2 separate regions of the Homo sapiens genome follow, and region 1 is linked to region 2. The links come from fine-mapping of genetic effects on gene expression. A gene starts in region 2. The other region holds a variant in brackets. All regions are shown on one strand. Distances are from middle to middle.

Region 1 (5,000 bases), 35 kb before region 2:
ATGCAGTCTCGCTCTGGAAAAAGGTGCCCACTTTTTCACTTTATTATCTCCAAAATCAGGATGCATCATCCCATCTATGGCTTGTCACAAACTGTTAGCTGAGATGATGTGGAGGGGGAGGGGCAACACCTCCCACAGGAACCTGTTCCCTTGTGTGAGGGGCTGGCCACGCCGGGTGTATCAGCAGCAGAGCAGCCCAGGAAAAATAACCACTTCCCAACCCCAGGCCAGGCGGTGCGCCAAGGGCTCTGCATGCAGTAACTCACTGAGTTCTCCAAACTGCAACAGTCACCATCATGATCGTCCATCCTCTGGGCATGAAAATGGACACCCAGAGAGGTTTTGTGACTCACCCCGGGCCACACAGTCACACAGAGTGGCCAAGCTGGGCCCCAAGCCCGGGTAGCTGGGCCCCCAGGCACACATGCATGCAGCCTGCGTGACTACACCCTTTCCAGCTTGGGCTTTGTGTGGAGAACAGGAGAGGCGTGGAGGGGAATGGGAGCTGGCGGTTGTGGGAGCAGCCGCCGCCATCTCTGAAGGCCCTGTCATCAGTAGGGAGCCGCAGCAGCCTGGCAGCCCCTGCCGTGTCCCCAGACGCGGAGCAGATGCTGAAGGGCCTTCTGGCAAGAGTGTAAGGAGCAGATTCCGCTGAAGCAATAACCGTAAAGGACCTGAATGACAGACGCAGACTGCACCTGAGAGGCGATGCTCAGAAACACTTGCGAATGCGGCTCCCCTTTACAAAGCACCATCCCCTACATGCTGATGCGGAAGACGGAGAGAGTAAAAATGATACAGCATTTCCTTCAACTGGCACAAACTACAACCTATTTGAAACCGGGTTAAGCCTCCAACAGCACCACCATTTGGTGGCAACATAAAGGTAGACACAAAAATGAAGAGAAAAAACAGGCTGGGGTGCTGTGAATGCATATACAAAAATAAGAGACAGTATGAACACTGTTGTGGACTGAACATTCATGTCCCCACAAGATTCACATGCTGAAGCCCTAACCCTGACAGGATGGTGTTGATACCTGGAGGCAGGCCTTTGGGAGGTGCTGAGGTGCAGACGAGGTAACGAAGATGGGGCCCTCGTGATGGAATTAGGGGCCGCATAAGAAGAGGCATCGGGGCACTGGCCTGCACTCTTCCTCCTCCAAGTGAGGACACAGTGGCAAGGCTGCCATCTGCGAGCCAAGAAGAGAACCCAACAGCAACCAAATCTGCCAGCACCCTGATCTTGGACTTTCCAACCTCCAGAACTGGCAGAGTATGAACATCTGTTGTTTAAGTCACTCTTAAATACTCCATGGTATTTTGTGATGGCAGCCTGAGCTGACCGAGATACACTATAATGAAAACACGTCTGAATCTCTTAAAATTTACACAACGCAGCTGGGTGCGGTGGCTCATACCTGTAATCCCAGTACTTTGGGAGGCCAATGCGGGCAGATGGCTTGAGCCCAGGAATTCAAGACCAGCCTGGGTGGGCAATGTGGTAAAACCCTGTCTCTACAAAAAATACAAAAATTAGCCTGGTGTGTAGTCCCAGCTACTTGGGAGGCTGAGGCAGGGGGATCACTTGAGCCCAGGAGGTCAAGGCTGCAGTGAGCCATGGTCAGGCCATTGTACTCCAGCTGGGTGACAGAGAAAGACCGAGTCTCAAAAAAAAAAAAAAAAAAAAATGCCGGGCGTGGTGGCTCATGCCTATAATCCCAGCACTTTGGGAGGCTGAGGCAGGCAGATCACGAGGTCAGGAGTTTGACACCACCCTGACCAACATGGTGAAACCCTGTCTCTACTAAATATACAAAAAATTAGCCGGGTGTGGTGACGCATGCCTGTAATCCCAACTACTCAGGAGGCTGAGGCAGGAGAATCTCTTGAACCTGGGAGGCAGAGGTTGCAGTGAGCCAAGATCGTGCTATTGCACACCAGCCTGGGCGACAGAATGAGAGTCTGTCTCAAAAAAAAAAAAAATTTTACACAATGCATGTAAGAAATAGAATTTGTTTATATAACTGTGTAACTAGCCCTATACCATATTCACCCATGTAACATTTAGGGAATCTTTCCTCAATAAAATAAGGGGTGAAGAAAAGCCAAGAAGGTGGGTTCCTCTGCTGTAGAGAGAGGGGTTCTCAAGATCGTGTCCTCTGTGGTCAGGAACAAAGCTTCACTCACCCCAACTTTCCTAGAGACCCTGGCCTGCAAAGTCAACTGCTCAAAACACTGCCTTCTGTTTTCAGCACACAGGAACCAAATCACCTGTCAATTCCTCCAGCCAGACCCTGGCAGGGGCTCCCACTACCCTGGGAACAATAAGCACAAAGCACCTGAGGGAGGGGGTGGGAACGCTTCACACCTGCTCCTCCCAGCTAGATGGAGAAAAACGCAAAGGAGGAAAATACATGTGTTTTCATTATTTTGCAACTATTTAATTCTCTTAAAATCTTCAAGCTTAAAAGCCACTAATGAAATTAACCACGTCCAAAACAAAATAAAATTACTGGAGAGTGGGATGTGATTGTGGAAAATAATTCCCAACACGTACCTGTC[G/A]CCTGTCTGTACTCCCATGGGGACGCAGTAATTAAGTTCCAACCGAGCGATGTTGCCAAGCCTGAGGACAATCCCGGCCCCGTACGACCAGCGGATGCACTCAGCCAGCTTACGAATATGAGCTTTGGGGCCCTCCCCTGAAAAGAGAAAGACCTGTGAGCAACAGTGCGTGCCCGTCCTTCCAAGCTCTCCCAGCTCTCCCAGACAAGCCCTGGCTCCCCCTGGCTGGGCCCTGCAGTTGTTTTTAAAGCCAGGCCTAGAGATTAGGGAGGATGCATGAAGTGAGATTAGGACCCAGGTCAAGAGAGGACTTGGAGCCACACTTACTCACATCCAGAATGAGCCACGCCTTCTCAATTCTTTGGGCCTGGCATATTCTGTTCCCTCTGCTTAGAATGACTTTTCCCCATCCCCTGACCACCTGGGAAGCCCCACTCTGAGTCTCAGCTTGGAGACTTCCATGCCTTCTAGGAAGCTTTCCAGGCACCCCTAGCACCCAGGCATCTGCTGGGAGTCTCTTCTGGACCTGAACTCCCTGAGGAAGGCACCCAATCCTACTCAGCTCTGTGGCCATCATGACTTGTTTATTAAATAGACAAACAGATTTTTCTTCGTAAGGGCATTAGATGATTATTTTTCTTGTATGCTTCATTCGCTCAACCAACCACTTAATGCTGGGCATTATGTTAGCTGTTGTAAGAATTTTTTTCAAGTAAGGCACAGTCTCTAACTTTAATGACTATGTAATCTAAAAAGACAGACATGGCCTGGCACGGTGGCTCACACCTGTAATCCCAGCACTTTGGGAATCCAAGGGGGGTGTGGATCACGAGGTCAAGAGATCGAGACCATCCTGGCCAACATGGTGAAATCTCGTCTCTACTAAAAATACAAAAAATTAGCCGGGCGTGATGGCACGCGCCTGTAGTCCCAGCTACTCGGGAGGCTGAGGCAAGAGAGTCACTTGAACCCAGAAGGTGGAGGTTGCAGTGAGCCGAGATTGCGCCACTGCACTCCAGCCTGGCAATAGAGCGAGACTCCATCTCAAAAAAAAAAAAAAAAGACAGACACCTCTTTGTGTACTGTGCTTTTAAACATGAAAACAACTGTACTACAATGGTTTCTTGAATAGCGCAAGTTTTACCATAGTTGAGGTTGCAGAGGTTTCCTGCGTTGAGAAAGAAGTGTGTTCGGAAAAGTTCTCCAAAGCCACCCTGGCCTGGCCGGAAAGGTAATGGGGTGTAGAGGTGCAGGCCGCCGGCCCAGTACGCTTCTCCACCTAGGTAGTCTCCTAAGCAAAGGAGGGGTGCAGAACAAAAACAAGGTCCGACAAGGTTAACATCACGTTAACTTTCCACAACTTACAGAAGCAAGATTTCTGTCCTGTAAACAACGCCACACAGTGCTGGAGTTTGCAAGCAGCTGTTCTTCTCATTCCTGATACTGATGGCCTCATTTTAAATAATCTTTCTTTTTCTCCTGGTTTGTTTCACACCTTGATTTAACTGAGGAGGCAAACAAAGCCAATGTCGTTGAGGAAGGAATGCACTCTGTCATTCATCGTATCTGTGAAATGCTTTGAAGAAATGAGTCTCATGACAATAACTTTATCCACAAATGTAGATGACCAACTCACTTCCACCTGCAAATGAAATGCATTATTTTGCCAAATTTTCGAGAGCGCAATAGAGACAAAATGCAGAAAGCGTCTCTGCAGTGTGTGGAGACAGCTGCACATGATTAATCAAAAGGCAGAGGCTGCCTGCCACCCACTGCACAGCGAGACCAGGTTCCAGCTCAGTGTCTCCAGAGAAGAGACAATTCTCAACGGTTCATGACCGCTTGGATTTAGGTTACTTTTGCCAAAGTGTAAGCCTATCCACTGAGAGCATGTATTTGCATATTTCTAAAAACGTTCCTGTCCATTCCATTTTAAACTATAAAGCAACAGAAAACATACAACCCAAAGGTTTATACTTTGTTGCAAAATACCATTTATACAGTGTCTTACTCTCCTCTAATACAAAATGACAGACCATGAAATGGGAAAATACTGATGTCTTCAAGACTAACTTCAAGGAATGAACTGCTGATTCATTTAAAGACTTCAGTTCCTCACAATCCAGAGGAAGGAAAAAAAAGACACCAACATCTCCTTAATCCCTTTCAACACGAGAGCTCTGATGGGAACAGAGAATGAACAAATTGCAGGAGAACAACCTTGTTTTTTGTTTCCCAGAAACCACTCCTCCTCTCTCTTCTTAAATAACTGATTTTATTCTGAACATAAAAGTTAAATATACTCATTGTAGAACATCTGATCAACATAAAGAGAAAAAAATGAAAATATTTTAATTTCTACCATTCAGAAATAAACAGCTAACATCCTGATGTCCTTTCTTCCAGTGGATTATAATGTAAATGTAAAACCAAAT
Region 2 (5,526 bases):
CAAAGGAAATGGCACGGAAAGGCGAAGCCCATCCAAATGCAGGGGATAAAGAACTTTCAGAACGGAGTTCTAAAAGATGGGAATATTTTGATGCTAAAGATGGATGATGGGAGGGGGAATGAAGTGCAATAGTGCGGTCCAAATAAAGCCATCCTCACAGGGCTAACAAGAATTCTGGACAAAGGCCAGGCGTGGTGACTCATGCCTGTAATCTCAGCACTTTGGAAGGCCGAGGCAGGCGGATCACAAGGTCAGGAGATCGAGACCATCCTAGCTAACAGTGAAACCCCGTCTCTACTAATACAAAAAATTAGCCGAACATGGTGGCAGGCGCCTGTGGTCCCAGCTATTCAGGAGGCTGAAGCAGGAGAATGGTGTGAATCTGGGAGGTGGAGCTTGCAGTGAGCCAAGACCGTGCCACTGCACTCCAGCCTGGGCACAGAGCAAGACTCTGTCTCAACAACAACAAAAAAAATTATTCTGGACATCTGGACAGAAATGTAGTTATAATTGGCTGGGCGCAGTGGCTCACACCTGTAATCTCAGCACTTTGGGAGGCCGAGGCGGGATGATCACTTGAGGTCAGGAGTTCAAGACCAGCCTGGCCAACATGATGAAACCCCCGTCTCTACTAAAAATACAAAAATTGGCTGGGTGTGGTGGCGTGCGCCTATAATCCCAGCTACATGGGAGGCTGAGGCAGGAGAATCGCTTGAACCTGGGAGGCGGAGGTTGCAGTGAGTGGAGATTGCACCATTGCACTCCAGCCTGGGCAACACAGTGAGACTCCATCTCAAAAGAAATGTAGTTACAATTAACCATTAATCAAGTTGCCTTTTTTTTTTCAAGAGCACAAATCCACATTGATTTATTGACTTTTCATTAGTTTAAATCCTTGAGGGGTACAGCATTACTCGGATTCTGTGTCCAACAGCCTTAGCAGGAAGATTGCTTCAGAATTTGGCACGAATCATGCCATTGTTTCTGTGGGCCCGAGTTACCTTTCCCCAGATTACTCTGGCTTTGTTTGATTTGCCGCCAGGAGTCACTATGTTGTTCTTTGCTTTGTATACATGAGCCCAAATAGAATTCTGTTTCATCTCGGGCATAAACACCTTCAATTTTAAGAAGAGCTGTGTGCTCCCTTTGGTTCCGGAGACTCCACTTATAGCCAGCAAAAATGGCCTTGGACCACAGCCTTCCAGACATATTTCCTTTCAGAAGTCCTGCTCCCGGCAGGCCGCCACAGGAGCCAAGATGGCAGGAAGAGCTCAGGTTGCACTCTGACCTACTTGCTAGTAACCAAAAGTCACAGATACTATTTGCATCCCCATTGATTTTACAGATAGGATTTCTAAAATTAGAATCATAAGGCTTTTGCTTAAGAGTTGCTTTAGATGTTTTTCAGATCTCGAATTCCAGCAAAACTGATGCTGCCAACCAGTTTGAAGACTCCTCCCCGCAACAGAGGAACGGAATCAGCATGAGAAGTTTCCTCATCTCCCTGTCCCATAACTTCACCCTTCACTCTTCCACCAATCAAGGATCTCCACACTTCAGCAAAAACATGAGGTCCAAACTCCTGAAGGAGATGGATTTGAGGTTTCCTCTCTTTTCCCATCTCCTCGTTCAGCGGCCCTGCAACTGAAACTCTTTCTCTGCTGCAACCCACTGTCTGAGTGTATTGACTTATCGAGCACACTGAGCAACAGACCTATTACAGTTACACAAAGAGATGTCAGAAGAGAAACGGTGTTTGATCTGAATGAAAGACATATAAAGGGAAGTTAAGTCCAATTATCGATGTCAGGCTGCGACTTCTGTGCTAAATTTTTTTGGAAGTTAATGGGGAACTACTGAAAACGTCTATGCAGGTCAAGTGAAGCAATCAAAGTTGCAGTAGAAAAGTAGTGTTGGGGCTGAGACTCAGGAAATCTGAGGTTTTAGGCCATTTGGAACCAGTAACTATGTGACCTTGGAGAAGTAACTCATTATCTGGCCCTTATTTAAGATTAGGATAAACGAGAGGAGTTTGGCAACCAGTACAGTTAGTCAGGCGCCAGGCACCCAAGTATTCACATGCATTGTCTTTTAATTCTCTTTTAAGCCAGGCGAGGTAGGTACTATTACTACCTCCACTTTAAAACAGGAAGTAAGGCAGAGAGCGGTTCCGTCTTTTGCACGGTAGACAGGAGAAAAGAGGACCCCTAGATAGGTTTGAGTTAGAAGACTTCAAAGGATTCTTGTTGCTCTAGGAGCCTACAATGGCTCCAGCAGCGGCTGAGCGGGGAAAGGCTGGAAGTGACCAGTAAAGAGAGAAAACTTAAAATCATGCAAAGAAAGAGCACATTCACTGCGGTCTAAGACATCACAGAAAGTTGGCAAGTCCTTTGGGCCACGGACTCGCCGAGTGACCTTTAGCCAAGTCTCGTCCCTCCTATCAGGTTCCTGCTCGAAGGTCTGCAAGACTCGCTGGCCCGAGGCGACCTCTTTTCGGCCTCCTCCACCCAGCCCGGCACCCTTGGCACCCTCTCTCCCGGTGAACCCTGGGCGCAGCCACGAGAGCGTCTCCCCGCGGCGCCCGTCTGCCCTGCTGGCCCAGAGGCCTCGCAGCCCGCGGGTCGCTGGGCCTCTTACCCGGGCGTGCACAGTCCCCATGGTTCCCTCTCCAGCCGCTGCCTCGCAGAGCTGCCCGGGCGGGACAGAGCGTCTGCTGCTGAGGGCAGAAGGCGGGTCCGCGGTGGCGGAGCTGCAGGTCAAGGCAACTCCCACAAACCCCCGGACGCGGAACACTGGGGGCGGCCATGATTCCCCGCCTTCTCCGCGCCCCCTGGCTCGCGATGCCTTCGCTCATTGGTCCTTATGCGCCTGTGACCCGGATGTTCACACGGCCGCGGAGGACGTTCTGACTGCGCAAGCGAAGAGCGTTCACTGACATCCGCGAAGCTGCTGGCGCGTGGACTGTGTGGGGAGGGCGCGTGGGGTGAAGGTGGGTCTGCGAGAGGGTCCGCTGGGAGGCTGGCGTCTGGCGTTGGCGCCTGAAAGAGATCAGACCAGCTGTTGGGTGTCACTCAAGTCCTGCTGCTCTTAGCCCTCCTAGCACCCCCGACCCGAGGGTGCTGTGCTTGTGCCCACGCGCCGGTGAAGCCCCGAGACTCAGCGGGGAGACCCCGGGTCCGGCCACCCCCGAGCTGCAGTAGTCGGGTCTCACCGGCATCTGCTACACAAACCCGGATTGGTGCCCTGGCTCCTTTCGTTCAAGTCATTGGAACCCCCACTCAAAATCGTCAAAATGAAGACGATGGTCGTGTCTCCTTCTTGGGGGTTGGATTAAAAGGGCCTAATGTGAGAGACGGAAAGCAAAGCTCCCGGCACCGGGCCGGGCACACGGTGGGCGCTAGATAATGACCGCTATTCACTCAACTGCAGCCAGTAATTATGGGCGAGGGCCATCTAGGTGCTTGCATGAGAACCAGTCATATCGGTGAAGAAGACGGCCATGGGCTTAGGTTTTGGTGGCAAAACAGCTCCCCTGCCCCAAAAAAGAAAAGAGAATAGAAAAGAAAAAGGCATAATAAATATCAGCCACACATTGTGATAAGTATATTGAAAGAAACGAGACAGAATAAGAAAAGAGGAAGCTTCAGTATCCTGTCACGTTGCCACTCCCTTCTGATAACAGAAGCATCTTTTCTTCTGTCCCCTTACTCCCTCCCAGAAACCCTGACACCCTTTCCATTTAAATAGCAGCACCCTAGGCCTCCAACATCCCTGAGCTAAATATTCAAGTCCACATGTCCCTTCTTGCCTGGAAAGAGACAGAACCCAGCACCAGCCAGGCCCCTGCCCTTCCCTCACTCTCAGTTCCCTGAGCCTCAATTCCTTATCTGTAAAATGGAAATGATAGCCTAAGGCATAAGGTCTGAGGACCTCATGAGATCAAGCATGGGGCCTGGCACTCTGTAAACATCGAATCAACCAGATTTTCTTTGCCCAAACAGCCCTCTTTTCTTACACTTTCTTCCTCGTTATTCTTCTGAGTATGCCACTTGTAAAGGATAAGCCATGAGGTTGCCCTGCAGAGTGCAAGATGGTTGCAATATTTGAGAGCCTATTGTGTGTGAGGCCCTGGAGGATGGCAGAGGGAACAGGAGGAAAACAAAGTCACATGCTTTACCCTCAAACAAAGGGCTGTCTGCGATAGTTACAATGTATATATTAAAGGCTATCTGTGATAGTTACAATGTATATAATATATTAAAGGCTGTCTGTGGTAGTTAACAATGTGTATATTAAAGGCTGTGATAGTTACAATGGGTATACTATATTAAAGGCGGTGGTAGTTACAATGTATATAATATATTAAAGGCTGTGATAGTTACAATGTACATAATATATTAAAGGCTGTGATAGTTATAATGTATATATTAAAGGCTGTCTGTGATGGTTATAATGTATATAATATATTGAAGGCTGTCTGTGATGGTTATAATGTATATAATATACTGAAGGCTGTCTGTGATAGTTAAGATGTATATATTAAAGGCTGTCTGTGATGGTTACAATGTATATAATAAAGACTGAGAAGTCTCACAGTGCATATACTGGTTTCCTTCTCTTTAACCCAGTATTTCTTGAATTTATTGGGTCATAGAGATTTTTGGTTTTGGAGATTTTTCTGTGGCCTCTGGCAATGCTATTCAACAGTATTTCTTGTGCTCCTCTTTTGGGCACAAGAGAGGATTGCATCTCCCTGCTCCCATCCATGTGACTTGCTTTGGTCAACACATTGTGAGCAGAAGAGAGATGTGCCACTCTGGATGAGAACCTTTAAGAACCATATTTCTCTAACCATGCCATGGCAATCAGCGATCCCCCAATGGTGGGGCACCTACAGGCTAGGTCTGGGAGTGAGGACGACTTAAAATGAAGCCCAGCCACATTTGCTGGACATACAGCACGAATGAGAAATAAACCTTTTGGGTTTTGCTTGTTAATGCAGCATAACTCAGCCTATCCTATATGATAATACCAGCTAGAAACATCTTCAAGGAAACCAGCATCCCAGAAAACCTGGTTTACAAAGTGCCAATCTTGTCCAATCAGAAGTAGAAGTGCAGTTTAGTGACTAAGCTAGTTTCCTTAATACAATCCAGGCTGAGTGCAATGGCTCATACCTATAATCTCAGCACTTTGGGAGGCCGAGGCAGGAGGATTGCTTGAGCCCAGGAGTTCAAGATCAGCCTAGGAAACACACCCCATCACTACAAAATAAAAATAAAAAATAAAAAAAATAGCTGGGCATAGTAGCAAGCACCTGTAGTCCCAGCTACTCCAGAGGCTGAAGCAAGAGGATTGCTTGAGTCCAGGAGTTCAAGATCAGCCTGGAAAACAGTGAGACCCCATCTCTACCAAAAAAAAAAAAAAATGTTTTTAATTAGCTTTTAATTTATTTAATTAAAACCTCCTCAGGAAGCTGAAGGAGGAGGATTGCTTGAGCCCAGGAGGTCAAGGCTGCAGTGAGCT

The links. PIP is the estimated chance that this variant, and not a neighbour inherited with it, causes the effect.
Region 1: its variant is the best candidate, but not a certain one, in a credible set for the expression of SAMM50 in blood mononuclear cells (TOPMed, PIP 0.79).

What each region holds. Positions count from the first base shown.
Region 1 is chr22:43,987,967-43,992,966 of GRCh38, reverse strand. SAMM50 (SAMM50 sorting and assembly machinery component) reads right to left here. Exons shown (of 15, transcript NM_015380.5): 13 at 3,710-3,856; 14 at 2,561-2,702. Among named protein-coding and RNA genes, the nearest start is that of PARVB, 34 kb to the left of the region's middle. The variant G/A (reference allele first, on the strand shown) is at 2,566.
Region 2 is chr22:43,952,710-43,958,235 of GRCh38, reverse strand. SAMM50 (SAMM50 sorting and assembly machinery component) reads right to left here and starts at 2,794. Exons shown (of 15, transcript NM_015380.5): 1 at 2,638-2,794. The coding sequence starts at 2,658. It also overlaps the pseudogene RPL35AP36. RefSeq lists enhancers at 2,050-2,259, 2,065-2,816, 2,940-3,019, 3,100-3,149, 2,817-3,569 and a silencer at 2,702-2,976.